7 linked regions of the Homo sapiens genome follow. The gene in region 4 interacts genetically with the main gene of each other region. Each region holds a gene or a part of one and is shown on either strand. Other genes may lie near its edges.

Evidence for each region.
Region 1: changes in KCTD10 (region 4) and GTF2E1 together harm fitness more than expected from each alone (negative genetic interaction), as found in Homo sapiens cells (one large-scale study listed by BioGRID).
Region 2: changes in KCTD10 (region 4) and KIF14 together harm fitness more than expected from each alone (negative genetic interaction), as found in Homo sapiens cells (one large-scale study listed by BioGRID).
Region 3: changes in KCTD10 (region 4) and BTF3 together harm fitness more than expected from each alone (negative genetic interaction), as found in Homo sapiens cells (one large-scale study listed by BioGRID).
Region 5: changes in KCTD10 (region 4) and PPP2R1A together harm fitness more than expected from each alone (negative genetic interaction), as found in Homo sapiens cells (one large-scale study listed by BioGRID).
Region 6: changes in KCTD10 (region 4) and PAFAH1B1 together harm fitness more than expected from each alone (negative genetic interaction), as found in Homo sapiens cells (one large-scale study listed by BioGRID).
Region 7: changes in KCTD10 (region 4) and MRPL42 together harm fitness more than expected from each alone (negative genetic interaction), as found in Homo sapiens cells (one large-scale study listed by BioGRID).

The regions. Positions count from the first base shown.
Region 1 is NC_000003.12:120,748,755-120,753,007, reverse strand, and holds part of GTF2E1 (general transcription factor IIE subunit 1), read right to left. Parts: intron 2,486-4,253; 5' UTR 2,456-2,485; coding exon 2,008-2,455; intron 1-2,007.
Region 2 is NC_000001.11:200,599,965-200,604,217, forward strand, and holds part of KIF14 (kinesin-like protein KIF14), read right to left. Parts: intron 3,992-4,253; coding exon 3,875-3,991; intron 3,378-3,874; coding exon 3,262-3,377; intron 2,105-3,261; coding exon 1,932-2,104; intron 540-1,931; coding exon 392-539; intron 150-391; coding exon 86-149; intron 1-85. UniProt on the Homo sapiens protein: Microtubule motor protein that binds to microtubules with high affinity through each tubulin heterodimer and has an ATPase activity. Plays a role in many processes like cell division, cytokinesis and also in cell proliferation and apoptosis.
Region 3 is NC_000005.10:73,500,926-73,504,041, reverse strand, and holds part of BTF3 (transcription factor BTF3), read right to left. Parts: intron 1,555-3,116; coding exon 1,441-1,554; intron 1,127-1,440; coding exon 925-1,126; intron 1-924. UniProt on the Homo sapiens protein: When associated with NACA, prevents inappropriate targeting of non-secretory polypeptides to the endoplasmic reticulum (ER).
Region 4 is NC_000012.12:109,456,476-109,460,728, forward strand, and holds part of KCTD10 (BTB/POZ domain-containing adapter for CUL3-mediated RhoA degradation protein 3), read right to left. Parts: coding exon 4,161-4,253; intron 1,607-4,160; coding exon of another isoform or gene 1,604-1,606; coding exon 1,517-1,603; intron 1,208-1,516; coding exon 1,155-1,207; intron 1-1,154. UniProt on the Homo sapiens protein: Substrate-specific adapter of a BCR (BTB-CUL3-RBX1) E3 ubiquitin-protein ligase complex. The BCR(BACURD3) E3 ubiquitin ligase complex mediates the ubiquitination of target proteins, leading to their degradation by the proteasome.
Region 5 is NC_000019.10:52,188,262-52,193,053, reverse strand, and holds the start of PPP2R1A (serine/threonine-protein phosphatase 2A 65 kDa regulatory subunit A alpha isoform), read right to left. Parts: upstream 3,003-4,792; 5' UTR 2,958-3,002; coding exon 2,880-2,957; intron 1-2,879. UniProt on the Homo sapiens protein: The PR65 subunit of protein phosphatase 2A serves as a scaffolding molecule to coordinate the assembly of the catalytic subunit and a variable regulatory B subunit.
Region 6 is NC_000017.11:2,666,371-2,670,153, forward strand, and holds part of PAFAH1B1 (platelet-activating factor acetylhydrolase IB subunit beta), read left to right. Parts: intron 1-621; coding exon 622-828; intron 829-3,783. UniProt on the Homo sapiens protein: Regulatory subunit (beta subunit) of the cytosolic type I platelet-activating factor (PAF) acetylhydrolase (PAF-AH (I)), an enzyme that catalyzes the hydrolyze of the acetyl group at the sn-2 position of PAF and its analogs and participates in PAF inactivation.
Region 7 is NC_000012.12:93,470,328-93,474,580, forward strand, and holds part of MRPL42 (large ribosomal subunit protein mL42 precursor), read left to right. Parts: intron 1-158; exon of another isoform or gene 159-263; intron 264-4,253.

The sequences.
Region 1 (4,253 bases), on a different chromosome or scaffold from region 4:
CAAGTATGTTCTCAGAATGAGGGTCCCTAATGATTATAAATTTTTAATCATGATACCTCAGGCTTTACTGTAGGACATAACTGCCAATTAAGCATTAGTGTTGGCTGACCAGGGCACCCTCCCCTGAGTGACATTAAGATTAAGTGGCTTATTCTTGCTCTCAGGCACCCCTTCTTTTCATCTTCATGCTGACCATAGCCCTCACATTAAAAATAGTCTTTGTTCAGACTGGCCACAACACAATTGTTTCAGTTTTAGCTTTATTTCATAAAATACTTTCATGCCCTCTACCCTAACTCCTTGATTCAAGTCACCTTGACTGTACTGGATGGAATGTTAGGCCATCTCTTCCACAGGCCATCTATTGAGTCAACTAGTTTCATTCAGAATCCAGGTGAAATTCAAGAGTATCATGATCAGTCTCCCAAATACTGATATATAAGTAGTGGAATCATCTCCTTTTAGAAAGTTTAATTAAATTAATATGACTCAAATGACAAATAAATGTAGTAGAAGCATGTTATTTTAGATTACTCTAAGGGACTGGATAACACCTTCTACTGTGGTCAAGAGTGATGAAGCCTCCACTGTTAAAACCAACATCTGTAGAGAATTACAAAACCAAGAACCCAGAGCTCCTGTAAGAAATCTGTTAGAGTGAATGGCAAGAATCATGAGACTTTTCTAGTCTATTTTGAAGAGCTCCAGATATATTCTACAACCTTCCTCTATAGAACACTCAAGCAATTCTCATACCGAGGATGGTTAAGACTTTCTTATAATCAAGATCTCTCCTTGTGGAGCCCTTTCAAGGTAAAAAGCTCGGCTCAGACAAATTAAATGTTTAATACAATTGTGAATTCCTTAAATCAGTTTTCATCCAAAATCATTGCCTCACAGTAAATAAGAAAAAAAGGTCACAGATTGCTTCTGGCTCTTTTTGTCAATAATCTTAATTTATATTGGGGTTATTTCCCACTTAAAAATTTTTTTTAATTATTTAAAATGTACCATATATAACATAAAAATTAGAAAATAAAACATACACAGAAATCTGTAATTTTGCACAACCAAATATTTCATGGGTCAAAGTTTAAACTTTCAGACGAAGTTTTTAAAAAAGCAGATCTATGAACTAAAAAGTAGCCTATACTCCTGAATTCAACCATAACAAAGGGACTTAATCTAATTTAATAGCACTGAGTCCTTCTATAGATTTTTACCTGTAGAAAATAAGACAAAATTGATCGAGTATTTAGCAAAACTAGTCTCTTTTTTATTGTGTAAACAGATAACAAGATAAAATAACTATATAACTCAGAACTTTAAAGTTTCTCATGTTTATGCTAGACATATTGTATTTTCAGATAATGCATGCTTTCTAAATTGTGTTATGAAAAATCCTTAAAACTATTCAATCAAATCAGGCCAATTATATATCTTGTTGACAATTTTCTTCCAACAATAATGTGTATCTAAAGGACACTAAATGTCTTATCTTGGAAAGAATTCCCCTCTTATTTCATCTAGCTAACTCTTACTATCTTTTAGGTCTCAAATGTTAACTTCTTCCAGAGGCCTTCCCCAAATCCAGATTATATGCCCTAGTTATATACTCCTGATACCACTTTCTACTTCCACTAACAAAGCATTTAAATACACTGTATTGCAACTGTCTAGAGGTCAAAAATAAAATTAGAACAGCCTCAAAGTGGTAGAGAAATCAACCCTTCAGATTAGGCTGCAGTTGTAAACAAGGTGGGGTGGGCAGAGGCAGGAGGGCCATAAGTGAGAAACTCCCTTGTAAAGGAGAAACGCTTTGCAAAGGCTTCTCAAAGTAGTGCGACAGCCAAACAGGACAGTAAGACTGACTGTATGCTGTGATTTACACTGATCCATTCACTTTTATAATAATATATATGATGGTTTAAAAATTAGATGAATCAATTTAAGAAAAAAGGTAATACACACTTTATTTTAAAGATTCACAAACTGGATAAACCTCACCTGTCATAGGATCAAAGAGCTGATTAGCTTCTAAGTCTGTGAAAGTACTACTACAGACAGGACATTTGAAGGAAGCCCGGTTGGTCGAATCTCTCTCATCGGTCTCAATTCTTCTTCTCATGTGGTCCAGTTTATATTTTACCACATTAACAAGAGTACGATAATTGATGAAGTAGTAGTTATGGCGAGTGGTTTTCCCGTCTGCAGCAGTCTCTACCCTCATTCTGCATTTGATAAACTTGTCTCCCTTTAAATTATTCAAAACTGATCGAAGTTGCTTCCGATCAAACTTGAGCAGCTCCAGCATATCCTCCTCTTTCACACAGGAGTTCCTGATCAAGATGTCCAAGGCCAAGGCATGCTCAATGCCATAAAATCCCCGGATCACATACTTGGCTAACCGCTTCAATGCTGCTGGAACTTCAGTGAGGACATCTGGGTCTGCCATCTTTAGCAACGAACTCCAACTTTAAATATACTGAATTCAAAAAAAAACAGAAAATTAGCCAGGTATAAGAACATGGTAATCATATCCACTATCCTTGCAGTGCCAGAAAAGTACCCAAAGTGTTTAAAAAGATTTCTAATACCTAAGCATTTAACAGAGCAGAACAAGATTTTCCTCTAGAATGCACAAAAGATTACACCCAAAAAGCTTTACATATTTCTTAAATGGCTACTTTTATGATCTATAGTGTGTTTGATTAAAAAGTAACTTTTTATTTATAAAACAATATATTACGTCAAGTCTACTTTACTTCAGAAGAGAAACACAAAAAAAGCTACATGAAATGCTCACTATTCTTTGGGAATGCTGGAAACCCTGAGAAAACTAGCAGTTCGCATTTCCTAAAAGTGTCTTTGTTTCCTTTCTTGAGTAAAATTTTTCTACCAAGATTCTAGGATGTTTTACATAGTCATGCTTTCACAATAAAATCACAACAAACCAATAAACACATGAGTAATCACCACCTGGGGTGTTTGACAAAATCATTAACTGTTGTAAAACTGAAAGAAAGTAATACTTAGATCCAGACAGTTTTACCAACCTTGAAAAATTGAATCTGATAATCAAGGAAAGACCATCCAGTCCTTAAAAAGGTAGAAAATGAGGGAGGGAGAGCAGCCCAAAATATTCTTAAATACTGGATCCCTTGACAAAGCAGAAACTAAGTGTATCTCATTTCCGTACCATGACCCAGAAAGCTGTCTTCTCAAAGCCCACATTGGCATATAGTTTACTTTAAAAACCTGGGCTTCGGGCAGAGACACAACCAAAAAGGAGAATTTTAGACCAATATCCTTGATGAACATTGATGCAAAAATCCTCAATAAAATACTGGCAAACCGAATCCAGCAGCACATCAAAAAGCTTATTATCCACCATGATCAAGTGGGCTTCATCCCTGGGATGCAAGGCTGGTTCAATATACGCAAATCAATAAATGTAATCCAGCATATAAACAGAACCAAAGACAAAAACCACATGATTATCTCAATAGATGCAGAAAAGGCCTTTGACAAAATTCAACAACTCTTCATGCTAAAAACTCTCAATAAGTTAGGTATTGATGGGACGTATCTCAAAATAATAAGAGCTATCTATGACAAACCCACAGCCAATATCATACTGAATGGGCAAAACCTGGAAGCATTCCCTTTGAAAACTGGCACAAGACAGGGATGCCCTCTCTTACCACTCCTATTCAACATAGTGTTGGAAGTTCTGGCCAGGGCAATCAGGCAGGAGAAGGAAATAAAGGGTATTCAATTAGGAAAAGAGGAAGTCAAATTGTCTCTGTTTGCAGATGACATGATTGTATATCTAGAAAACCCCATTGTCTCAGCCCAAAATCTCCTTAAACTGATAAGCAACTTCAGCAAAAAGTCTCAGGACACAAAATCAATGTACAAAAATCACAAGCATTCTTATACACCAATAACAGACAAAAAGAGAGCCAAATCATGAGTGAACTCCCATTCACAATTGCTTCAAAGAGAATAAAATACCTAGGAATCCAACTTACAAGGGATGTGAAGGACCTCTTCAAGGACAACTACAAACCACTGCTCAATGAACTTAAAGAGGATACAAACAAATGGAAGAACATTCCATGCTCATGGGTAGGAAGAATCAATATCGTGAAAATGGCCATACTGCCCAAGGTAATTTATAGATTCAATGCCATCCCCATGAAGCTACCAATGACTTTCTTCACAGAATTGGAAAAAACTACTTTAAAGTT
Region 2 (4,253 bases), on a different chromosome or scaffold from region 4:
TTTACATGCATTGGCATATTGGCAATATTTATTTCTTGGCATATTTCTTTTATTTTCTAATCAGTTTAGAAAGTTGAAATAATACCTGTAACTCTTTTGTTTCTTGAAGTTTTCTTTTTTCAGCTTGTTCAAACTTTTCTTTCCACACTCTTTCCAAAGACAAAGAAAATAACAGAGTTAAAAACATCCAGATGTATAAGATTGAGAGTCAAGAGACAATCAATGAAAATTAGGCAACTACCTAGTAATATTTAAAATATGATAATCTGGGAGTGGGCTGCTCTATTCATAAGGAAGGTCGGAAAAATACTCAGTATCCTCTTGAGGTCCCTGCCATTCCTATGATTCCAGAGCAACACACTTAACATTTAGAGTACTGACTGTACTCTACCTTTGCATTTCTGCCATGTCTCTCTCCTGTTGATGCAGTTTCATTCTTAAGGATGTTATTTCTTGCCGACAGAGCCTGTATCGTTCAGGGTCAATATTCCGACTGTTTCTCTGAGCAGCTTTTAGCTTTGCAATTTCTGCCTTCAATTCTGAAGATTTATACAAAGATGCATTAATAATAACATTTAATATATAACAATTTCCACAGTAAGCATAATCCTCCAATCTTCTATTTCATTTGAAGTTTTAAATACAGTATTACTAAATAAAATAGAATATTGGAGAAATCAGCTCTACTTTATATAACCTATAAATCTTTACTTAGTCTTAACCTGAAATATGCTCCCATATTAATGAACTTTCCCTGTTCATAAGTAGGAAAGCTGTATAATGTACTGACCAAAGTGGAACACTTTTGAGAGGCAAAAGGGTAATTGTTAAAGTGAAAGTTTATTTAAAAAGTAAAGAAATAAAAGAATGGCTATTCACTAGGCAGAACAGCCAAGATCAAAGATTTTTCAAGCTGGAATTCAGAATATTTATTTATTTATTTATTTAGACAGAGTCTCACTGTCTAGAGTGCAGTGGTACGATCTCGGCTCATTGCAACCTCCGCCTCCTGGGCTCAAGCAATTCTCCTGCCTCAGCTTCCCGAGTAGCCAGGATTACAGGTGCCCACCACTGTGTCTGGCTAATTTTTGTATTTTTAGTAGAGACAGGGTTTCCCCATGTTGGCCAGGCTGGTCTCGAACTCCTGACCTTAAGTAGTCCGCCTGCGTTAGCCTCTCAAAGTGCTGGGATTATAGGCATGAGCCACCATGCCCGGCCCAGAATACTTATTTTTAATGAAAACAGTCCCACTTGTGAAACAGAAGGGATCCAAAAGGGAAAGGATGGACCAGGATAGACAAATCAGATTCTTCTCTGGCTCATACATCTGAAGTGTCTATCACCTTCTGCTGCTAAAAAGGGCCAGAGGACAAAGGGGCATGAAAAGATGATAGTTCTACATCAGCAAAGATAAAACTGTACAAATCAAGATTTCTTGCAGGCATTAAAGTCTATCCTAAATTGATGATTACCTAGAGATAAATAGAAAGCAGTATTTAGCATAAATGAAGTTCAGCCTATACTAGAAACTCGAGCTCCAATTGCCTTTGGATCAATGAACTAAGCATGAGCAGAGCTAGTACATAAAACGTCAATGGAAGAGAGGTCATAAGAGAAAAATAGTAAATAGTTTTATTGGCATTTTGCTGCACACGTCTATGACTGTGTAAATTTATTGTTTAATGCTTACTGTTTCCCCCTTACTCACACTCTGTTTTCTATGTTCTTTTCCTAATTGTTTTTCTCCTTATTACTTATTATCTGTCCTTCTACCTATCATCCTCCATCACTATAGGCTGATGACTAGAATCTATTAAAATAGGTATAGAAAAACACCTTTGATGTTCATAAATTACATATTTTAAGACTGCAACTAATATCTGGGACTAAACTGTGGCAAAACAATTTTTAAATTCTGAGAAAATATTCACCTCTAATTAACTTAGCGTTCATATCTTCATTTACTTTAGCAATGTTGACTATTAAACGGGCTTGGTTAGCATATCTAAGTGTGCTTAATGTTTCTTCTATGTTGCTGGCAGCGGGACTAATCGTAGCAATCATTGCAGTTTTTGAATTTCCACCCAGACTTTCTTTTAACAGCCTACAAGAAAAAAAGTCATAAGACTTTGCTTCTACAACAACTTAATAACAGTAATTATCTAGAAAGCACAAAACAAACTAATAGGGTATATAATACAGTATTATTATACTCTACTCAAATACCATTTAAAACTTTTCTGGTATTTGTAACTATTTCTAGATCTCATAAACACTTTTTCTCTCTTACACTTTTTATATTGTTTCAAGAGGCAATAATCTGTGCAGAGATTCTAAAATGTGGTGGATCATCAAGTATTTCATGACTGTGAGCTACCATAGGGAAGGGACTATGTGTCTTGGTCATCTTTGTATTTCCAGTGCTACCACAACCTTTTGAAGCAGGTGCTCAATAAATGTTGAAAATGATGAACATTGAAACAAAAATTCTATATTGTACTAAAAGCAAAATCTTTATTTTAGAGAAAAAGAGTATGAGACTTAAAACATATATTAGTGCAGAATGAATGTCACTATTTTTAACTTTCATAAGACATGAAAAAAATCAGATTTTCCCTTATAGGTTTCAAGGTGGCAATCACATTGTAATAAACCAATTATAAAGACACATTACCCTCAAGTAAAGATGCAGTCCTTATTGTAACTGTATATTAATGCCTATCACAACTGAATATTAAATCCATACAGATGTAATCTGAATGTAACATATTGAAAATTAAATATACATTCACTAATGAAAACATTTATTGAGCACCCATGTATTAGTCACTGTGTAGTAAGCAAACAAAATTATTCAACTTCTCTTTATACAACTAGCAATATGTTTGGTAGTACCATATATGTTCAAACATCAGCCACAAATAATAGTTAAGTACAAGAACAGTTATTTACACTCATATAGTACATATTATGTATTAAGAATTGTACACTAATAATCTAATTCTCACTTACCCCTAAAAGGTATTGATTTTATTCCTATTTTACAGATGAGGAAACGGGCTAGAATATTAAGTAATTTGCCCAAAGTCACAGAGCTTATAAGATGCTGAGCTGAGATTCAAATCCAGGTAGTTTGGCTCTAGAATTCATAATGCTTACCACCTTTCTCCATCCCAAAGTTAATGAAGTCAGTCTATCATTCTTTTCCCCATAGTATTCACTATATTTTATACAATTCTTTATACTTCAAAAGATACTTGCCATGTAAGAACAGATTCACGATAAGGAATAAAAACACTCCTTTGGTTTGCTTGTTCCGAAAGTGCAGATATAACTTTTCCCAAAGTTAGCAAGGACTTATTAATACTCACACCTTCCTGCATGCAAGAAAAAAAAAATTTTTAACTTAAAATACTTCTCAGCAAGAAATTTATTTCACAAAATATATTTCTCCCCTCATATAATTACTGAGTAAATACTTTTTTACTTTCTTTTTTTTTGAGACAGAGTCTCACTCTGTTGCCCAGGCTGGAGTGCAGTGGCATAAACATGGCTCACTGTAGCCTCGACCATCCAGGCTCAAGCAATCCTCCCACCTGAACCAAGTAGCTGGGACTACAGACACATGCCACAATGCCTGTCTATAAATACTTTTTTCTATAAACTACCAACTTTCTTATGACTCAAACGTATTTTCTTTAAAAATTAATCATAACCAAAAAGTACGTATCTCTTTTTCAACCACAGCAATGCAGTCTATAAACTGCAGATAAAGATATATTTGGGGAGGTTAAGTGTATTCAGTTTGTATTCTCCTTAAAATAATGACCTCAGGAATAAATTTCATCAAAAGGAGAAAAAGCATTCCATTTACCTTTAGTCGATCTCCATTAGTGTGAGCCGTAGAGCAGCGCTCACTGCCTGCCAGATCTATTAGGTTAATTCGACTTGTTATTCTGTGATCGTGTTCTTCCCCTTCCACAAATTCTGTCTACAGCAAAATGATATTAAATTAAATTAAGTTCTATTACTTCCAATCAATATAGGTTTTTTTAAAGGGAAAGCTGTAAAAGATTACACATCACTCTTTTATTTTTTAAATAGTCTCTTCTTTTTTTTTGAGACAGGGTCTCACTCTGTTGCCCAGGCTGGAGTACAGTGGCATCATCACGGCTCACTGCAGCCTTGATCTCCTGCGTTCAAGCAATTGTCCCACCTCAGGCTCCCAAGTAGCTGGGACTACAAGCACATGC
Region 3 (3,116 bases), on a different chromosome or scaffold from region 4:
AAAACCCACATACCAAATCATGGTGAGATTTTGGGAGACAAATGAAGATGCCATTTTCTCAACTACTCTGTGTGTGGCATAAGGGTGATGCTCAACAACCACTTACTGAAATGAAAAAAGTTAAAGTAAAAAAATTAAAGAGTCTGTGAGTGGTAAGCATCCACTCTCCTTTATCACACAAGAATATGAACGTACACAGGAGAGTTATGTACTAGGCCCATACAGGCATCAGTGGGATACTTCAAAAGCCTATTTCAGCTCTGAAAGCCCTGACAGTTTAGAACCTGCAACTCAATGTGATAATAAAAATGAAAATTGAGGCAGATTAAGTCAATACCTAGAAAAACATGGGTAACTAAAGAGCCATATATAAGCCTCTGACTTCCTCCTGCATTCCTATTCTTCAAAATTTTAAGCACAGAAAACAGCATAACACTGCCACATCCTCAGATGTATATTCAGCTACACTATTTTCTGCCCCGAATAAAATCCCTATCACACTGTAATTAAAAATGCCAGAATACTGGCAAGCCATTTTTAAAAGATTACTGGTAATACGAACTATATAGATGAAACTGAAGTAATTTCATAATTTACACTAATTTTTTTTTCAATTCCAAACTTACAAGTAGTTATTGGCAAAGCACCAAATTAACATTTTCATCATTTCTAGTTAATAAAGTATCTGATCCAAATCAAGTAAGTAGAAAACATTCCACAAAATCAAGTGTAACAATCATGGCACGCTACATCAATTACTGCAAACTTGAGCAAGGACAGTTGCTTAAAATCAGTTACAAATCTGTTATTTTTAAAGCTTGCATTTCCAAACTTAAAAATACTCATATCCATTCTGAGCCCTGAGATCAGAAATCAGCTGCTAAATGAGTAATTCCCTGGTAAAACCATTACTAGGAAACTCACATTGTTTGGGCAGAGCTTCGGCCAGTCTCCTTAAACTAGTCAGACTATCCGCACCAAGCTGGTTTAAGATGCTGGGTAGCATTTCTGTCAGCTGCTTTGTCTCAGCATGGCCTGTAATGGTGAAAGTGTTCGCTGCCAGAGATGCCTGAACTTTAGGGTTGTTAAAGTGGATCACTGTTCCTTGGTTTGTAAACATATTCACCTATTAAGAAAAGAAAAATTTAAATTAGCAATGCTGACCAGTCTCTTTAAAAACAAATGTTTTATTAAACTAAGTCTGGCTAACTAGTATTTCACTGTGAAGCACAGGTGAAATTTTGCCTGGAATGGAATATGTATTCTAATAGCATTCAGACTTAATGAGCTCCCTGATATTTATTAATTTATGGTAGAAACACATCTTAGGGACTTTGAAGTCCCTAAGTTAAAAAAAAAAAAAACAACCCATTTAATGCATTAACGTTAACTTTTCCCAGCCAAATCTTGTTTTTTAAAGTAACAAAATTTGATACTTGCCTCTTCAATACCAGAGATATTGTTTACCCCTAACTTCTTTAAGGAGAACTGAAGTTTTTTGTCATCTGCTGTGGCTGTTCTATGAACCACCTTCTTCTTTCTGCGAGCAGTTCCCTAAAGTCAGGGAGAAGAGGAAAGAAAACAGCACATTTATACCACAACAGATATTTTTCAAATGGGAATAGTTTCCAATTCATTTCTGACCTTTGGATCTGTATAAGAACATTACCATAATCATAAACTTATGCAGTGAGCAGGCAGGCTAAGGCGAAGATAGAAGCAAAAAATGGGAAAGGAAAAGAATGATCTTTTCAAAGTTCTACTTTTTACATTTGCTCTAAAAGTGATCAAAGAGGTAGCATGTGTCAATCTAAATTAAGCATTTGAAAGAATTCCACATCCAGAATTATTAACCTCTTCTGTTTTTTTTTTTTTTTTTTTTTGAGACAGGGTCTCACTGTGTCGTCCAGGCTGGAGTGGCGCAATCTCGGCTCACTGCAACCTCCGCCTCCCAGGTTCAAGTGATTCTCCTGCCTCAGCCTCCCGAGTAGCTGGGATTACAGGCACCACCATGCCTGGTTAATTTTTGTATTTTTAGCAGAGATGGGGTTTCACCATGTTGGCCAGGCTGGTCTCAAACTGCTGGCGTCAAGTGATCCGCCTGCCTCGGCCTCCCAAAGTGTTGGGACTACAAGTGTGAGCCACCGCGCCTGACCCCTTTTCTGTTTTTATATTAAATAAAAATCAACATCCAAATTAATATTTACAGGCAAGACAGTGTATGGAACAATCAAATGAATCTGTATATAGACTTCTATAGGACTCGATAGTAAAGTCTGAAGCCCTTACCTTAACTTACAAGAGCCCTACACAAACTGTCCTGCCCTTAATATGCCACTCCTGACTGCATCTGCTACCATCCCTCTTCTTTAGCCAATAAACCTTGGCTATTCTTTGAACAGGCCAAGCAGGCTATGACCCAAGGGCCTTTGCACATGCTGTTCCTCTCCTTCCGGAACATCTACATGGCTCTTTCCCTCACTGCAGATCTCTACTCTTATGTCACCTGATCAAAGTGGTCTTTCTCAACTACCCAAAGTAAAATAGCAACTTCCACACTCACTCATCAATTTCTTTCTATCCTGGTTTATTTCTCTTCATAACACTTATTACTATAAGAGATAAATACATTTTATCATCCATCTCCTCTCCCTAGAATGTAAGCTCCATAAGGACTTCTGTTTATTGCTATAAACCCAGTATCTACAACAGTATCTAGCTCACTGAAGGCACTCAAGGAAAGTCTATCACACCCAACCACCTCACCGTCCCCCAACCTCCATCCCTATTCCTATTCATCCTTTAAAATCTTATTCAAGTCATTACCTCCTGTTTGCCTTTCCTAAATTCTGCAATTACCCCCTTTCCCTATGCCAAATCATTCCCATCTCTAGATTTTGAAAATGCTTCTACTATTGTACTATGTATATTACACTGTGAAAGAAGATTTTTTTAAGAAAAGACAATTATCGCCACTGCTAGGCTTAAAGCCCACCTAGGGACTTTAAACTTCTTAAAATTTTATATTCTCAGGATCCAACATAGTAAAGGCTTAAATAAATCTTGTTATTTAACTGAAGAAAATATCTATGGCTACAAAAAAAAAAAAAAAGTAC
Region 4 (4,253 bases):
GAAGGAAAGTGAGGATCAGAGAAATTAGGTAATTGCTCAAGGCTGAACCTAATAAATGGCAGACACGCCCCCCAAAAGACAGCCCTGGCCCCTAAGCCTGAGTGCTCCTAACCATTGTGCTTGAGTGACAGCCTCTGGGCACAGGCACCAGGTGGAGGAGAGCACCTCACCGAGCCCCAAGAGGAGCAGAATGGCACTGCCCAAGGGAGACTCTATATCCTAGGTCTTTTTAAAGATCTTGAGTAACCTGATTAAATCCTCCCTGCATCCCTCAAGTTCCTGAGTTAGAGCCACATGTTTTCAAGGGCCAAATGGCATTCTAGAAACCTGCATATATTGCTGGTGGGAATGTAAAATGGTGCAGCCACTTTAGAAAACAGTTTGGCAGGTCCTCGAATGATTAAACATAGAATTACCACATGACCCAGCAATTCTGTTCCCAGAGAAATGAAAACGTAAGTCCACATAGAGACTTTGCATGAATGTTCATAACAGCATTACACACAATAGCCAAAAAGTGCAAACAACCCAAATGTCCATCAACTGATGAATGGGTAAAGAAAATGTGGTCTACACTGTGGAATATTATTCTGCCATAAAAAGGAATGAAGTATTGATTCATGCTACAACATGGATAAACCTTGAAAACCTCTTAGGTAATCTCATTATGCTGAATGAAGGAATCTGGTCACAAAAGGCCATATATTATGCAATTCCATTCACATAAAAATGTCCAGAACAGGCAAATTCATCAAGACAGAAAACAGATTAGTGGTTACCTAGGGCTGTGGGGTTGGGGAAGCAATGGTTGAGGGAAAATGGGGAGTGACTGCTAACGAATAGAGGGTTTCTTTTCAGGCAGTGAAAAAGTTCTAAAATTAGATAGTCGTTATGGCCTCACAACTTGTGAATATATAAAAACCACATATTGTGAATATAATAATAACTGTACACTCTAGAAAGATGACTTTTATGATATGTGTGAATTATAGCTCAGAGTTATACCCCTGTATCCATCTGTCTACTTATCTATCCAGGCAGAGAGGTACAGAGGGGTCATCCTCATCTGAAGGTACGAAGAAGAGCTGGGCCTGGCTGGTGTGAGTGGAGGTTTTCCTAGTAAATGGAGCTGTCTTTCCCGGCTGACGCCTTACCTGGTATATGAGTATTTGTTGTTACTTCTGTTGTAGAGCAACTTCACGGCTGGCTGTGGGTTGTTTTAAAAGAAGAAGAAGAGAGTTACTTGGCAGGCAGATGCAATGAACTACTAGCTTCCCATAGGGCTGGGGCCCTGCCCTGCATCAGAAGAGGCAGACAAGCATAGCTTGCTGGCTGGAGAGGGGGACCACATGACCCAATAGCAGGGGCACAAAAGATGACCTGTAGCTTCCCACTGTGAACCCATTATCAGGCCTCACTCAGGCAATTATACATGTTTTTATTTCAAAAGTTATTCAGAAGAACCTCCATCATTTCTGGTAGCAAAAGAAATTCCACAAGGGTGCCTCCAACATACCTTATTTGAAGTCGCTATAAGTTTTTGTTCTTCCTTGGATGAGGTGATCACAGGGACCTTGCAGAAAGGCTCATAAGTATCTTTGTTCTGCTGGAACAAAACATGCTTTCAGCCTAGGAGGCCTGCCTAGCACTGCATTTTTAAAGTTGACCGGCTGGACAGGCTCTGGCGAGGGGAGATGGGGCAGTCATGGCTGGGAAGAGAGAAGGATTCTCACCACCAGTGAACTAGATGGGGGAAGACAGGGAGTTGAATTTCCCAGTAAGTCTGCTCTTTGGCTATGACCATGATAGGCCAGGATGCTGAGTAAGTACTAACAATGATGACACATTTTCCACAGCCCAGGAAGCCACTCAAAAATAAACCCTTGACGTGGCAGCAGAAACGTGTTTTAATCAAAAGCTCCTAAAACCCCACTACCATGACTGCAGAGGAATTAAAAAAAAAAGCATAAACCCATAAGGGGAAAAAGAATGGGAGAAGTGAGGTCAGCAGACCAGTAAAAAAAGTCAAAAATTTGAGGGTAGAAAGGTCACAGGTGAGCGTTAACCAAGGAGAGGGGGAAAGCTGAAACCAGTGGGCGGAAGCACTGGAAAGATCCCCAAATCCATCTCCGTCCCCATGCAGGCAGAAGAAAGGGCCATCTTCCTGCAGTGGTTTGCACGGTAGAGGACAGGGCTGAGCTGCGATTCTGAAAACGGGGGGACAAGTGAACATCACACTAAGTGATGAGCAACCCCAGCTCCTTCCCCTTCCAGATCCCCAAAGGCAGCCGGCCAGGCCTAGACCCGTCAGGCAGGAGGAGAGTAGAGGATTCCTCTTCAGGAACACCACCTGCTTCCCCCAAAATGGCTTACAGATTCTGACAGTTGGGGGTCCCGCTGAAAAAGTCTGCCTTATCACCCACAATGCAGCCCAGTGGACAACAAGGACCTTCCATGCACAAACAGCTTTCAGAGTCTCTCATTCCTTCAACAGACAGCCAAGCATCATCAGATTACATGTGAAAAGCCTCTTTAACATGAGAACAAAACCAAAACAAAGACAGGAAAAGAGGAGGAGTCAGATAATGAAGGGAGAAGAAAGAAAACAAACAGAATCATCAGACAGTTGAGAGCAGATACGGCCTCCTAGGAAACAAGATGAGCACGCTGTGGAAAGCAGGGCATTCGGACAGCAAGAAAAGGCTCCTGAAGTTAGAAAGACGAAGCAGAAATGAAAATTTTGATAGAAGGGTTGAAAAGGTGAAAAATAAAACTTCTGAGAAAGTAGAACAAAAGGATAAAGCCAGAGACACTAAGAGGAAAGAATTAGGAGGTCAGTCCTGGAGGTCTAACCTTAGACTAACAGAAACGAGACCCAGGGGCATGTCTCCAAGACAAAGATGAAACAGAACCTCTGATGTGTCTGAACACACCACTATGAGACCGCTGAGAACGTGGGGCTGAAGTAGGAACATATATTTAGAAAACCAAGTGAACAAAACAATGAGGCAATCCCTAACTCTGGCAAACTTAAAGTTATAGAAGAAAGAAAATAATCACTGTACACTCTGTGGCTTAACTGTCAGCCGTATTTACACGTCATGACGTAAACTCTGAATTTAACCAAAACTGTGATGAACTGTACTGGGAGAATGGGAGAAGGAAAAGTATGCCTAAGCTTGGTGGGGGTAGAGGTAGGGGCAGTGCGTGAGCTAAATTCTAGTTTCTATAGTCATGCCAGTAGATAATGTCAAAAACTGGGAATTCAATAAAGAGCAGCACAGGCGAATTATGTGGAAACATAAATGTGAACAGAAAAAACTGCTGAAAGAATTCACAGAGGTTACTGCAAGGGTGAAGGAGAGTAGGAGGGGTATGGTGGTGTTTTGATGTTAACCTTGCAGCACTATTTGACTTCTTGAAGGATGCATGTGCATCACTTTCAACAGTGTAGTAATAATAAAAAAGTAAATGCTGCAACATTCAGTTAGGTCTGCAGTGAGTTCAGACTCTCAGAGTAGAGGTGGTGTGCAGCATTATGGGTACTGGTCCGGTGCGGGGCCAGACACAGACATGTGGTGTGGGGGAGGCCCAAACAAGGGCCTCATGCACACAGACCAGATTCCTACGAAAACCCAAAGGGATGCTTCTGATGCTCTGCCACGTTGCAACTTTGTTTGAAATAAAGGGGTGTTGGCCATGTCTAGAAGCATTTTGTTTTTGTGGGATTTTACTGTCACCAGACCTGACTCCAGTGGTCCTGCTCTGTCTAGCTAAGGAGTGAGGGGTGTCTGTCTGTAGAGATTATGCTGAGCTCCCAACAATGACTTGTGGGACTAGAGTAAGCCCTAAGATTGGTCCCGAACACCGACCAAGTTTCACACCGCGGGGTTCTCTGCTGAAGGGTTGAGATGTACACATGAGAAGATCCAACAGCATGGGGCTGCAAGGAGTGACACAGTAGTTAGGTGGCCTGCTGTTCCAGGGAGGCCTCTCAGGGGTCACTCCAACCGAAGGAATCGGGCTCCAGGGCAAACTCATTAACTCTCACAACATCTCAGTCAGACAGAAACTGCCCCCATTTTGCAGAGAGGGAAAATGAGGAAGGCAGGTAGGCTTGGTGCCTCTCCACCCATATGGGAAGAAAGGGTGATGCCTACTTGTAGGGCCGCCTGGCACTCTTCCACCAGGCCTTGGACTAGGTAGTACTTGGCTTCTGCTAGCAGCTCCTCGATCTCCCGGCGGCTCTCGGG
Region 5 (4,792 bases), on a different chromosome or scaffold from region 4:
ATAGAGCAAGCACCCAATAATTTGTTACGCAGATGGTTTAAGTCAGAGGTCAGCAATTTTTTCCCTGCAAAGGGTTAGACAGCAAATATTTGAAGCTTTGCGGCCATCTCTGTTACAACCATGCAACTCTGGGCTGTAGCACAAAAGCAGCCATAGGAGCTTCCAGACAGATGAACACCTCGCGGTTCCTGGGGGGTGGAATGCCTAGGGAGGGCATGGAAGCTCCACACAACTTCCCCCACACCTCACCCTGCATGTGTCTTCATCTGTATCCTTTGCAATATTCTTTAGAATAAACCGGTAAGCTGCCTAGCTCTGATCCTGGCACAAAGACATCTCCCTACAAATGTCTGCTGGTTAGTGGATGGATGGATGAATGAAAAGATGGGAGGATAGATAGCTGAAGGAAGTGATCCTGGAGTTAAAAAAAACAAAAAACTGGCCGGGCATAGTGGCTCACGCCTGTAATTCCAGCACTTTCGGAGGCCGAGGCAGGAGGATCACCTGAGATCAGGAGTCTGAGACCAGCCTGGCCAACACCGGGAAACCCAGTCTCTTCTAAAAACACACACACAAAAATCAGCCAGGCGTGGTGGCCTGCGTCTGTAGTCCCAGCTACTCAAGAGGCTGAGGCAGGAGAATTGCTTGAACCCGGGAGGTGGAGGTTGCAGTGAGCAAAGATCGCGTCAGTGCACTCCAGCCTGGGAAACAGAGCAACAAGACTCCGTCTCAAAAAAAGAAGAAAAAAAAAAAAAGGCCATTACATATCTGTTCCCTCTTCCTGGGAGGCTCTCCCCCACCTTCTTTCAATCTCTTCTCAAACTCTGCATCCTCAGAGGGGCCTTGCCTGATTGGCCTTCTTAAAATGGATCTGCCCCACCCCACTTTGTACTTGCTGTGCCCTCTGCTTTCAGGCGTGTTCTCAAACAGGATCTCAACAAGGCCTCCCCTGACCACACTTTAAAACTGCATGCCCTATATATACCCCATCTCTCTTATTTTTATTTGTCTCCCTAATGCTTATCCCCAGTATACTCTGTTTATTGTCTGTCTCTCCTCACTACAAAATAAACTCCCCAAGGCCTAGAGTTTTTTCTGTCTTGTTCCTGCTATATACCAGTGCTTAGAACAGCGCCCTGCACAGAATAGAGGCCCAATTCAATATGGATTCGCTACCACTACATCCTATTTGTTTCCTTCCCATCACTTTTCAAACACTCATCTATTCAGCTCTGCTGACCTGTTTCACATCTGGATCCTGTATAGCAACTGGTGTCTCCACTATATCCCCAGCATCATATCTCATACATGGCATATATTTACTGAACAAAAGAATTCATACAACCGCCCTATGAACTAGGTAATTAACCCCATTAAAGAGAAGAGGAAACAGGCCTAGAGAGATTAACTAACTTGCCCTTGTCAATCAGTAACAAGTGGAAGGGCCGGGAATACAACCACAACCTGTATGCCACCAGAAACAGTGATATACCAGGAACCTAGGAGGCGAGACCCACGTTTGGCAGGTTACCCAGTGCACCTTGTCCAATTTTATAAATGGGAAAACAGACCTAAAGGGAGGATGGGACCTCTTTAATCACCACTCCCAATAATTACAGCTAATATTTATCGAGCCCTTACAACAGGCCTGACACCATTCTACTTTTTATTTGTGTCATAATTCGTTCAGTCCCTCACAAGTCCCTCCAGCAAGACCAGGACTACAATTAGCCCATATTTTATGGAACACAGAGACCCAAAGCGGTGAAGTAATTTGCACAAGGTCACACAGCAGGTGGGAGGTGGACTTGCAGTTCTAACTGTTCTCAATCCCACACCAGCCCGGCTCAGAGCCTTGGGTCACCTCATCCCATAACCAGGAATGTTCATCCGGGCTGGGCGCGGTGGCTCACGCCTGTAATTCCAACACTTTGGGAGGCCGAGGCGGGTGGATCGCTTGAGGTCAAGAGTTCCCGACCAAGCCTGGCCAACATGGTGAAACCCCGTCTCTGCTAAAAATACAAAAATTAGTCGGGCGTGGTGGCTCGCGCCGGTAATCGCAGCTAATTAGGGAGCTGAGGGGCGAGGATGGTTTGAACCCGGTATGCAGAGGTTGCACTGAGCCGAGATCGCGCCACTGCTCCCCAGCCCCAGCCTGGGCGACACAGAGACTGTCTCAAAAAAAAGAAATAAATAAATGTTCATCTGCTTAGCAAATCCCTCAACCCCTATCCTGGTCAATGGGAGGATCCGGGGAGATGGGGAGGCGGGTTTCTACAACCTAATTCGCTCCTAAACTTGGCTAGTCCCCACCTTTGGTGGGGGGGTGTTTTTGCGTCCCCGTCCTCTTAGGACACCTAAACCAAAATGAGAGGCGGAGGAAGAGCAGGAATTAGGATGGCAGGCCTTCGCCTCTCGGTCCCCACTTGGCCCAGCAGTCGAAACCCAGAAAACAAAAAAACCTTCCCAGGTCCCGACCCACCCGGCGGCCCTCCCCTACTTGGAGCAAGTCATGCGCGCCCCACATCCCCAAGAGGCCATTCAGAGGCCGCCGCCAATCACGGAGTCCTCCTCTCTCCCAGACCCAGTCCGCAGACCCCAGCCCTGGCCACAACCTCCCAGGACCGCGGACCGCCGCGCGCACAGGGCAGGCCCGGGACCCTCGAGGCTAGCGCTGGCCCCCGCCCTCCACTGGGCCGACACCCAATCGGGAGCGCCGTCTCAAGGAGTCCGGGCAACCGGGGAGATAAGAGACGCACGCTGATTGGCCGTCGCCCCCTTCCGCCACTCCCAGCGAACGCTGAGTCTTCTCCGCGAGGGCCGCCCGTGCCCCCAGGTACCCCTCCGCGTCTTCCCCAAGTCCCCCGTAGCCTCCGGACCTGAACGTCCTCATTGCGGAGTTCGTCTATGAGCACCGCGATGGGGTACAGCGAGTCGTCGCCGTCGGCCGCCGCCATCTTGGCTCCGTCCCTTTCCTGTCAGACTGCGGCCAGCGCTGTGCTGAAACGTGGGGGGGGCAATGCTGGGAGAAGAAGGAAGGGCGGGCGTGGGGGCGCCCGAGCCAGTTTACAGGGGCTGCTCCACGGCCATTGGCCGCGCTACCCAGGGCTAAGCTCGCGTTTCTTTGGTCCGGACTTGTGAAGTCCCGCCCACTTCCGATTTGCCATTGGTCGAGTGAACAAGATTTGACTAGTTTGAGCCTAGGAGAGGGGGAAGAAAGCGGAAGTTAGCCGTGTCCTAGCGACCAAGATTGTACCCGCCCTGGTCGCTGCTAACAACGACCGAGACGAGCAGTAGTTTCTAGCCAATGAGGGGCGACATGGGGAGGAGGCTAAGCCTGCCCTTTCTTGAGTCCCCGGGAAGGCTTCTGCGCGTGCGTCGGTGGTAATACGTGACGTCCTGTGGGGAGCTGGAGGGTGTGCAGGTTTTGGGTTACCAGGCCGTGGTTCCGCTGGCTGGCTGGCTGGCTCTCCGCGCCGTTGCGCGGCAGGAGGAGGGAGTGAGACTTTGATTTGTGCTTGATTTATGCCAAGGCCCAGAGAAGGGAGCGACTTGCCCTTCTCTCTTTTTTCTTTTTCTTTCTTTTTTTTTTTTTTTTTTTTTTACTTTTTTAAAGACAGGGTCTCGCTCTGTTGCCCAGACTGTAGTGCAGTGGCAGGATCTTGGCTCACTGCCGCCTGGACCTCCCCGAGCTCAAATGATCCTCTCGCCTCAGCCTGCAGAAATAGCTGGGACTATCGGCGCGCGCCGCTAGGCCCGGCCAATTTTTAAAAAAATGTTTGTGGAGACCGAGTCTCACTGTGTTGAGCTCAGTTGCCTTGCTGTTTGGATGAAACCCAAGCCCCTCGGGCTGGTATTCAATACCCTGTCTAGGCGCGTCTCCCATCTGTTTTTTACCTTTTATCTGATGTCCTGGAGAATTACAGCTGCCTGAGCACTTCTTGCGTTTTCATGCCAGCAAGCCTCCTTGCCCAAGCTGTGCGTTCTGCTAGGGGTGCCTTTCATATTCACTTCTGAGATCTCTGCATAAATGCCTCCCCTTTACTCCCTTTCCTCTCTGTCTTCAGGCTCTGTTCTCTAGGCTTCCAGAGCCACAGAACCCCTCTCTCTGTCTCTCCAGTCCCATCTATCTCTCTGTCTCTCCAATCCCATCTCTCTCTCTCTCTCTCTCCAATCCAATCTCTCTCTCTGTCTCTCAATCCCAGAGCCTGGGCTGTGACTATGTATTCGAATTTGTTTCCTCCATAGAGTGGGAGCAGGATTGGATCTGACTAATCTCTGTTTTTAACCTCTTCAACACAGCCCTACCCCCCCACCGCAATCTTAGGACCACTCTAACTGAGGGAGTTGAATGGGGATGGGAAGGCCTGGGATGCTCTTTCCTCCTTTATTCTGCTACTTGAAGGGCTAGGCTGAGCTAGCACTCTGACAGATCTGAATACCCACAGCATCTATTTCTTTTTTCTTCTTTTTCTTTTTCTTTTTTTTTTTTTGAGACGGAGTCTCGCTCTGTTGCCCAGGCTAGAATGCAGGGGCCCGATCTCGGCATACTACAGCCTCTGTCTCCTGGGTTCAAACAATTATCCTGTCTCAGCCTCCAGAGTACCTGGGATTACAGGCGCCTACCACAACGCCCGGTTAATTTTTGTATTTTTAGTAGAGACGGGGTTTCACCACTTTGGGCCAGGCTGGTCTCAAACTCCTGACCTCAGGGTGATCTGCCTGCCTTGGCTTCCCAAAGTGCTGGGATTACAGGTGTGAGCCACCGCACCCGGCCTTTTTTTTGAGGCGG
Region 6 (3,783 bases), on a different chromosome or scaffold from region 4:
GGAGCCATTGTGATTAATGCTGGGAAAAGAACACTAAAATGTGCTCGTAGACAAGTTGTTTTTATCTCTGAGCTTTTATTTTTATCTGTAAATACAACAAATAATATTCCAGTCCTAAAATGGATACTTCATAGGCAAAGTTAGAATAAGTAAATAACATTGTTATGAGTTCATCATATAAAGCTCTTAGAAAAATGCTTAGCACATAGTAGATGCTCAATAAATATTAGCTTTTATTAATATTATTATTACCATATATAATGTGGTTTGGAAAGAACTTACTAAGAGTAGCAGCCTTAGAGGGACCAAGACAAATTCACTGCCCTTCTCTAATTAGTAGAGGACTCTGTCACCAGATACAAATCGAAATTTTTCTTTTTGTTAAAGAGTTAAGGCAATTGTACTGAATTTTTCTCAATTTTTAGTTTCCTCACATGACTTAGATTTTGATGCTGTACAAAATAAATAATTTTCATTTAAATTTGACAAATGCTTTGGAGATTACTGAAATTTTTTCAAGTATCCTACATACATAGTTGCAAAATAAAGGCAGTTTTTTAAAATGTCACATGCTATTTTTATTGAAATCTATCTGTACGTAACTACATGTTCTTTTTCAAGGTTATGGAATTAGAATCAAAGCTAAATGAAGCAAAAGAAGAATTTACGTCAGGTGGACCTCTTGGTCAGAAACGAGACCCAAAAGAATGGATTCCCCGTCCGCCAGAAAAATATGCATTGAGTGGTCACAGGAGTCCAGTCACTCGAGTCATTTTCCATCCTGTGTTCAGTGTTATGGTCTCTGCTTCAGAGGATGCTACAATTAAGGTAATTTTTTGTTAAAAGCAGACTTAACGGGAGGCTGAAGCAGGAGAATGGCATGAACCCGGGAGGCGGAGTTTGCAGTGAGCCGAGATTGCACCACTGCACTCCAGCCTGGGCGACAGAGCCACACTCTGTCTCAAAAAAAAAAAGCAGACTTAATAGGGTGAAGAAAATTAAAAGATCCTGAAAATGAGGGCCTATGAAGAGGGACAGGAGGTACTCTGAAACGTGTGATTTGGTTCTAAATCTTAAAAGACAGAATTGGAATAAAATATCATTGTGGCTCCTGAGAGGCATGCTGCCAGGTAAGTTTGATGGTGAATTTGAGAAAGTCGGGTGTCACTAACTGAGTTGATGTCAGTACATCACCTTGTGCTTGAACAATTTTTGTTCTTGGAGAATGAAAAGTGTGTGTCTTACCTTTAAACGGAGGTTATGTGTGAAATACTGATTGACAAAACTAGTAATTGATAGGGTGAATCTATACTGCAAAAGAATTCAGTAGAGGATTCATTTAAATTGGGCTTTCCTTGATGTATTTAAAATTGGCTTTCCAGGAGTGTGGGAATATACAAGCTTTTCATTTTATAAATTACGTATTTCATTAAAAAATTTTTTTCACAGTAAAAATATTATTACCTTTTAATGTTGTGCTTTTTTAATTAGGAAAAGAGTTGTTTTTAAGTTGCCTTTGTTCCGGACACAATAAAATGACCGTTGTATAAACCACCTACAGAAAGATAAGATAGTTGCAATATAGGTAGATTTAGGTAGATGCCTCTATCCTAAGGGTTATTTCAAAGTAAGTTACAGATATTAAGTTTCATTTACAAAAGTATAACCAATCGGCCGGGCACGGTGGCTCACGCCTGTAATCCCAGCACTTTGGGAGGCCGAGGCGGGTGGATTGCCTGAGCTCAGGAGTTCAAGACCAGCCTGAGCAACACGGAGAAACCCCATCTCTACTAAAATACAAAAAAATTAGCTGGGCATGGCAGCGTGCGCCTGTAGTCCCAGCTACTTGGAAGGCTGAGGCAGGAAATTCGCTTGAACCCAGGAGACAGGTTGCAGTTAGCCAAGATCGCTCCACTGCACTCCAGCCTGGGCGACAGAGCGAGACTGTCTCAAAAAGGTAGTTACAACTAACCAAATAGTAACGACGGTTTGGCCTTACTACTAACAGCAGAAGAAATAAACACTGAAATTATGGGCCGGGTGTGGTAGCTCATGCCTATAGTCCTAGGACTTTGGGAGGCCAAGGTGGGAGGACTGCTTGAGCTCAGGAGTTAGAGAGCAGCCTGGGCAACATAGCAAGACCTCGTCTCTACTTAAAATTAGCCAGGTATGGTGGTGCATGCCTGTAGTCCTAGCTACTCAGGAGGCTGAGATGGGAGGATCACATGAGCCTGGGAGTTGGAGGCTGCAGTGAGCTATGATTGAGCCAGTGTACTCCAGCCTGGGCGAAGAGTGAGACCCTGTCTTAAAAACAAAAAAATTGGACTGGGCACGGTAGCTCATGCCTGTAATCCCAGCACTTTGGGAGGCCAAGGTGGGTGGATCATGAGGTCAGGAGATCGAGACCATCCTGGCTAACATGGTGAAACCCCGTCTCTACTAAAAAATACAAAAAATTAGCCGGGAGTGATGGCGGGCTCCTGTAGTCCCAGCTACTCGGGAGGCTGAGTCAGGAGAATGGCGTGAACCCGGGAGGCGGAGCTTGCAGTGAGCCAAGATCGCGCCACTGCACTCCAGCCTGGGCGACAAGAGTGAGACACACATACATATATATGTGTGTCAAATTGTCAAGGTATTTTACCTATTAAATAAGAATTCCCAGTGATGATAAGATTTTGATAAAGTAGTCATTCTCATTACATATGATACAGTCTTACGGGATATCAATTTAATAGAGTATATGAAGGCTTTAAAAGTTTATACTTTTTGACCCACTAATTGTTTCTCCCCATTACTGTCTGACCTAGGTATTATAAAATGAGGACAGAATTTTTTTATATTAAAAAATGTTCACTATAATGTTTTCTATAATAGTGATTTAGCCAGCAATTAGAATTTTTTTTTTTTTTTTGAGATGGAGTTTCACTCTTGTTACCCAGGCTGGAGTGCAGTGGTATGATCTTGGCTCACTGCAGCCTCCGCCTCCCAGGTTCAAGCAATTCTGCCTCAGCCTCCCGAGTAGCCGGGAGTACAGGCGCCCACCACTGTGCCTGGCTAATTTTTTGTGTTTTTTAGTAGAGACGGGGTTTCACCATATTAGCCAGGATAGTCTCGAACTGACCTCGTGGTCCGCCCGCCTTGGCCTTCCTAAGTGCTGGGATTACAGGCGTGAGCCACTGCGCCCGGCCATATTTCATTTTTTAACTCAAAATGACATATGCTCTTGTTCATTTGCTATTCGTGAACAGTTAACATCTTCTGAAATCTTTCCTTGGCCCTTTAGATGTCTGAGTTCTGATGGTCTAGTAGGATCGAGTATTCATCCATTGTTCCTCAAATATTCTACATACAAATGCCTGCTATAGCCCTCTGAAGCTCCTTCCCTTCCCCTTCCCTTTCCCCTTTCTTTCCCTTTCCTTTCCATCTCTTTCTCTTTCTTTCCTCTTATTTCTTCCCCTTAAGTTTCCTTATTTACATGTCATTCCTGCTCTGAGACAGGGAGCGGACTATGTCTTGTGACTTTATATACCTTATCACTATTACAGTTGGTTATGTGATAGAAACCTTATAAATGTGGTTCTAGAGATAGATTTTAATAATTGCAACATTAGTTTTCCCTGTAGAAAAAAAGACCAATTTATACATGAGATACAATATTTCTAAAATAGTTATCCTTTGTTACTTGTTCGGTTAGTTACTCAGTAAGGTGCCAGACTGGCCTGCTGAGTGCAAATGTGAAACAAGAAAGGAGTGATGGAGTTGGTGTTAACCAATTTTCTGTTC
Region 7 (4,253 bases), about 16 Mb from region 4:
TCCTTTTCCTGTCTGTAAACAGAGTTTATAGCTCTTATAAACAGCTCTTATAGGAAGCTTTCCATTTCTAAAGTAGACATGTATAGAAGGCAACAGTAGGTTTGCCTTTTTATATTAAACTATGTGAGCCAACTTTTTATTTTTATTTTTTATTTTAGATTCGGGCGTACATGTGCAGGTTTGTTACGTGGATGTATTACATATACTGAGGTTTGGGCTTCAACTGAACCCGTCACCCAAATAGTGAACATAGTACCCAATAGGTAGTTTTTCAACTCTTCCCTCCATCCCTCCATTCTGTTTTGAGTCCCCAGTGTTTATTGTTCCCATCTTTGTGTCCATATGTACCCAATGTTTACCTCCTACTTGTAAGTTAGAACATGTAGTATTTGGCTGTTTTTGCATTAATTCACTTAGGATAATGGCCTCCAGCTGCATCTGTGTTGCTGTAAAGGACATGATTTTATTTGTTTTAATGTCTGTGTAATAATCCATGGTATGCATATACACCACATATTCTTCCAGTCCACCATTGATGGGCTTGTTTCCATGTCTTCGCTATTGTGAATAGTGCTCTGATAAACATGCAAGTGCAGCTGACTTTTTAAATACAACTCTGCTTGACCTTGACCTTTGTCTCTTCTTTCTTATTTCCTATTTACCACCATTTGTAATTGAAAGTTTGCTTATTGAATTAGGGAGAAAAGAGCTATTTGAAGAATGGAGTATAAGTAAAGTAATAAATAGGCAATTTGTTATGCTTGAGACGAGGAAAATATTTTACTCAGTAAACACCTTTGTTGAATAGAATGCTCAAAAGTTTGCCAGATCCTACTCTATTTTATTTTATTTTATTTTTTGAGACTGGATCTTGCTCCCAGGCTGGAGTGCAGAGGCATGATCTTGGCACACTGCAACTTCTGCCTCCCAGGTTCAAGTGATTCTCCTGCCTCAGCCTCCCGAGTAGCTGGGATTATAGGCACCTACCACCAGGCCTGGTTAATATTTGTATTTTTAGTAGAGGTAAAGTTTCACCATGTTGGCCAGGCTGGTCTCGAACTCCCAACCTTAAATGATCCTCCTGCCTTGGCCTCCCGAAGTGCTGAGATTACAGGTGTGAGCCATTGCGCCTGGCCTAATTTTTGTATTTTTAGCAGGGGAGGGGTTTCACCATGTTGGCCAAAACTGGTCTCAAACTCCTGACCTCAAGTGATCTGCCCACCTCAGCCTCCGAGAGTGCTGGGATTATAGGCATGAGCCACCGCACCTGGCCACCAAATCCTGCTCTTATAGGAAGCTTTCCATCCCTGCTTCCTTGCTTGCCCCACTCTCCCATTTTTTAGGGCCCTAAACATAGAAACATTTATTACATTATATTCAAAGTAAAATCAACTTAGAATTCAGTAAATAGAACAGGACATTGCTTAAGAGACTTTGGATATAAACCAAAATAAGTCACAACAAAACTGCAATCAGCTTTTGATTATCTAGGAGCATTTTTGTTGTTGAGAATTGGGAGAAAGACCCTTACTCTTACTTCTTAGATTCCTCTTTGCCTTGCAGGAACCCAGCTCCTAGGCTAATGAGAAGTCACATCCAATCAGTTTTTACATAGACTATGTTTTGAAACAATTAGTCCTCACACAGGCCCATCAGAAAACCAGTTAATGTGTCCCTGAATAATTGAAAATTATTTATATATCTTTTTCCCCACTGGATTTCCCACTAAGTTTGTACTGGATCTAATTCATTTTGGTGTCCCTGGGGCCTCTCATTCATGATAGGAGATCTATCAGTGTTTGTTCAAGTAATCTGAATGGTTTAGAGTTAACTCTCAAAATATCTAGTTAACTAAGAATTAGGTTACCCTAGAAAATCATTCCATTATCAGTTATCCTAATACTCAGTGACCTAACTTCTTATATCCGAAAAGTCCCTTATACTGCAAAGTTCCTGTTGCTACTATTATTGAAAGTAAAGGGCTGGGCAGGGTGGCTCACACCTGTAATACCAGCACTTTGGCAGGCTGAAGCAGGCTCTGAAGTTTGAGACCAGGCTGGGCAACATAGGAAACCTCATTTCTACAAAAGTTACAAAAATTAGCTGGGCGAGGTGGTACACGCCTGTGGTCCCAGGAGGGAGCCAGCTTACTCAGGAGGCTGAGGTAGGAAGATTGCTTGAGCCCAGGAGTTCGAGGCTGTGATTGTGCCATTGTACTCCAGCCTGGGAGACAGAGTGAGACCCTGTCTCAAAAATAAAAAATTAAAATTAAAGAAAGTTTCATTACTGTTATTATTGATGTTTAATAAAAAAGGGAAGGACAGTAAGATTGGAGGCAAAGCGAAATCATGATTAAGGAAGAAAGTTCAGTGAGCAAAAATAAAAAGCCTTCCTTATATTCTAGAAGGAATATTTTAAAATTTCCCAAATGGTCAGTCAGCCCGGGAGTGTAGAACACTTCACAGTTTTCAAAGCATGTTAAGCCATTTGATCCTTATAACAGCTTTGATTTTGGTAGCCCATGTAGTATTATCCTCTTTATGAAGGTAAAGAAACTTGAGTTCTGTGGCCCTCATAAGTTCACCCAGGGTCACATATTTGGTAAACAAAAACTGTGACCAAAATCTGGATCTCCCACCTTACTTTGTCCTGTATACTTTCTACTGTACTTCCTTTTCTGTAGCAAGGTAAAATACTGAGCATTTGAAGATGGGACAACTTTTAGCTTTCATAGCTCTTTCAAAATGCAATTAAATATATATATGTAACAAGAATAACTCATAAATTACAGAAATTATTGTTAATTGAAATTCTTTTGGCACATTGAGCTTAATTGCTGTTAACTTTGGCATTGGTCCTAATTATATATTTAGAGCTTCTGCTACTTCTATATCCAGAATTACTTCCATTGGTAAAATATCAGGTAATGAATGTTTCCTTATTTTTTTTTCAAGGTGAAGTCTCACTCTGTTGCCCAGGCTGGAGTGCAGTGGTGCAGTCTTGGCCCACTGCAGCTTCGACCTCCCTGGGCTCAGGTGATCCTGCTATCTCAGTCTCCCAAGTAAGCAAGACTACAGATGTGTACTACCATGTCTGGTTATTTATTTATTTATTTATTTTTGAGATGGAGTTTCACTCTTGTTGCCCAGGCTGGAGTGCAATGGCATGATCTTGGCCCACTGCAACCTCCGCCTCCCAGATTCAAGTGATTTTCCTGCCTCAGCCTCCCAAGTAGCTGGGATTATAGGCATGTACCACCATGCCCGGCTAATTTTGTATTTTTAGTAGAGATGGGGTTCCACCATGTTGATCAGGCTGGTCTCGATCTCCTGACCTCAGGTGATCTACCCACCTCAGCCTCCCAAAGTGCTGGGATTACAGACGTGAGCCACTACGCTTGGCCTATGTTTTGTATTTCTTTGTAGAGATGGAGTTTTGCCATGTTGCCCAGGCTGGTCTTGAACTCCTGGGTTCAAGTGATCCACCTGCCTCAGCCTCCCAAAGTTCTGGTATTACAGGCGTGAGCCACCATGCCCAGTCCTTATGAATTTTTCAAACATCAGTTATGCAGAAACATTTGAGAGGCAGTTCGGCAATCACTTTTTAATGTGTAGGCACTATAGGGGACACAGTAATGAACAAGGTACAGTTCCTGGCCTTAAGGAACTTATTTAGACTTGTAGGTGAAACAGACATCTAGCAACACTAAGAATGCCCAGAATATGAGGCAGAATGTGATAAGTGTGTCATGAGGGCACAAACAAATGTCTGTGTAAACACAGAGTAGAAATTTTACTGAGTTTCTTGTTAACTAAAATACTGTTGTCTTGAGTTTTCTTGTCTGCATATTTCAGAACACTTAATTCTGTCACCCAGTCATGTTTCTTTCAGTGAAAATGTATATCATCTAGTTGGTTTATATTCAGAGATACAAAATTGTTTTTTTTTAATTTATATTTTTTATTATTAATTTTTTTTTAATAGAGATGGGGTCTCACTATATGACCCAACTATGTTGCCCAGGCTGGTCTTGAACTGCTGGATCAAGCGATCCTGCTGCCTTGGCCTCGCAAAGCGCTGAGATTACAGGAGTGAGCCACCACACCCCACCAGTTTTAATTTTTTTAGAAACGATTTTGCTCTGTTGCCCAGGCTAGAATTCAGTGGCACAATCATAGTTCATTGCAGCCTCACCCTCCTAGGTTCAAGTGATCCTTCAGCTTCAGCCACCTGAGTAGCTGGGATTATAGGTG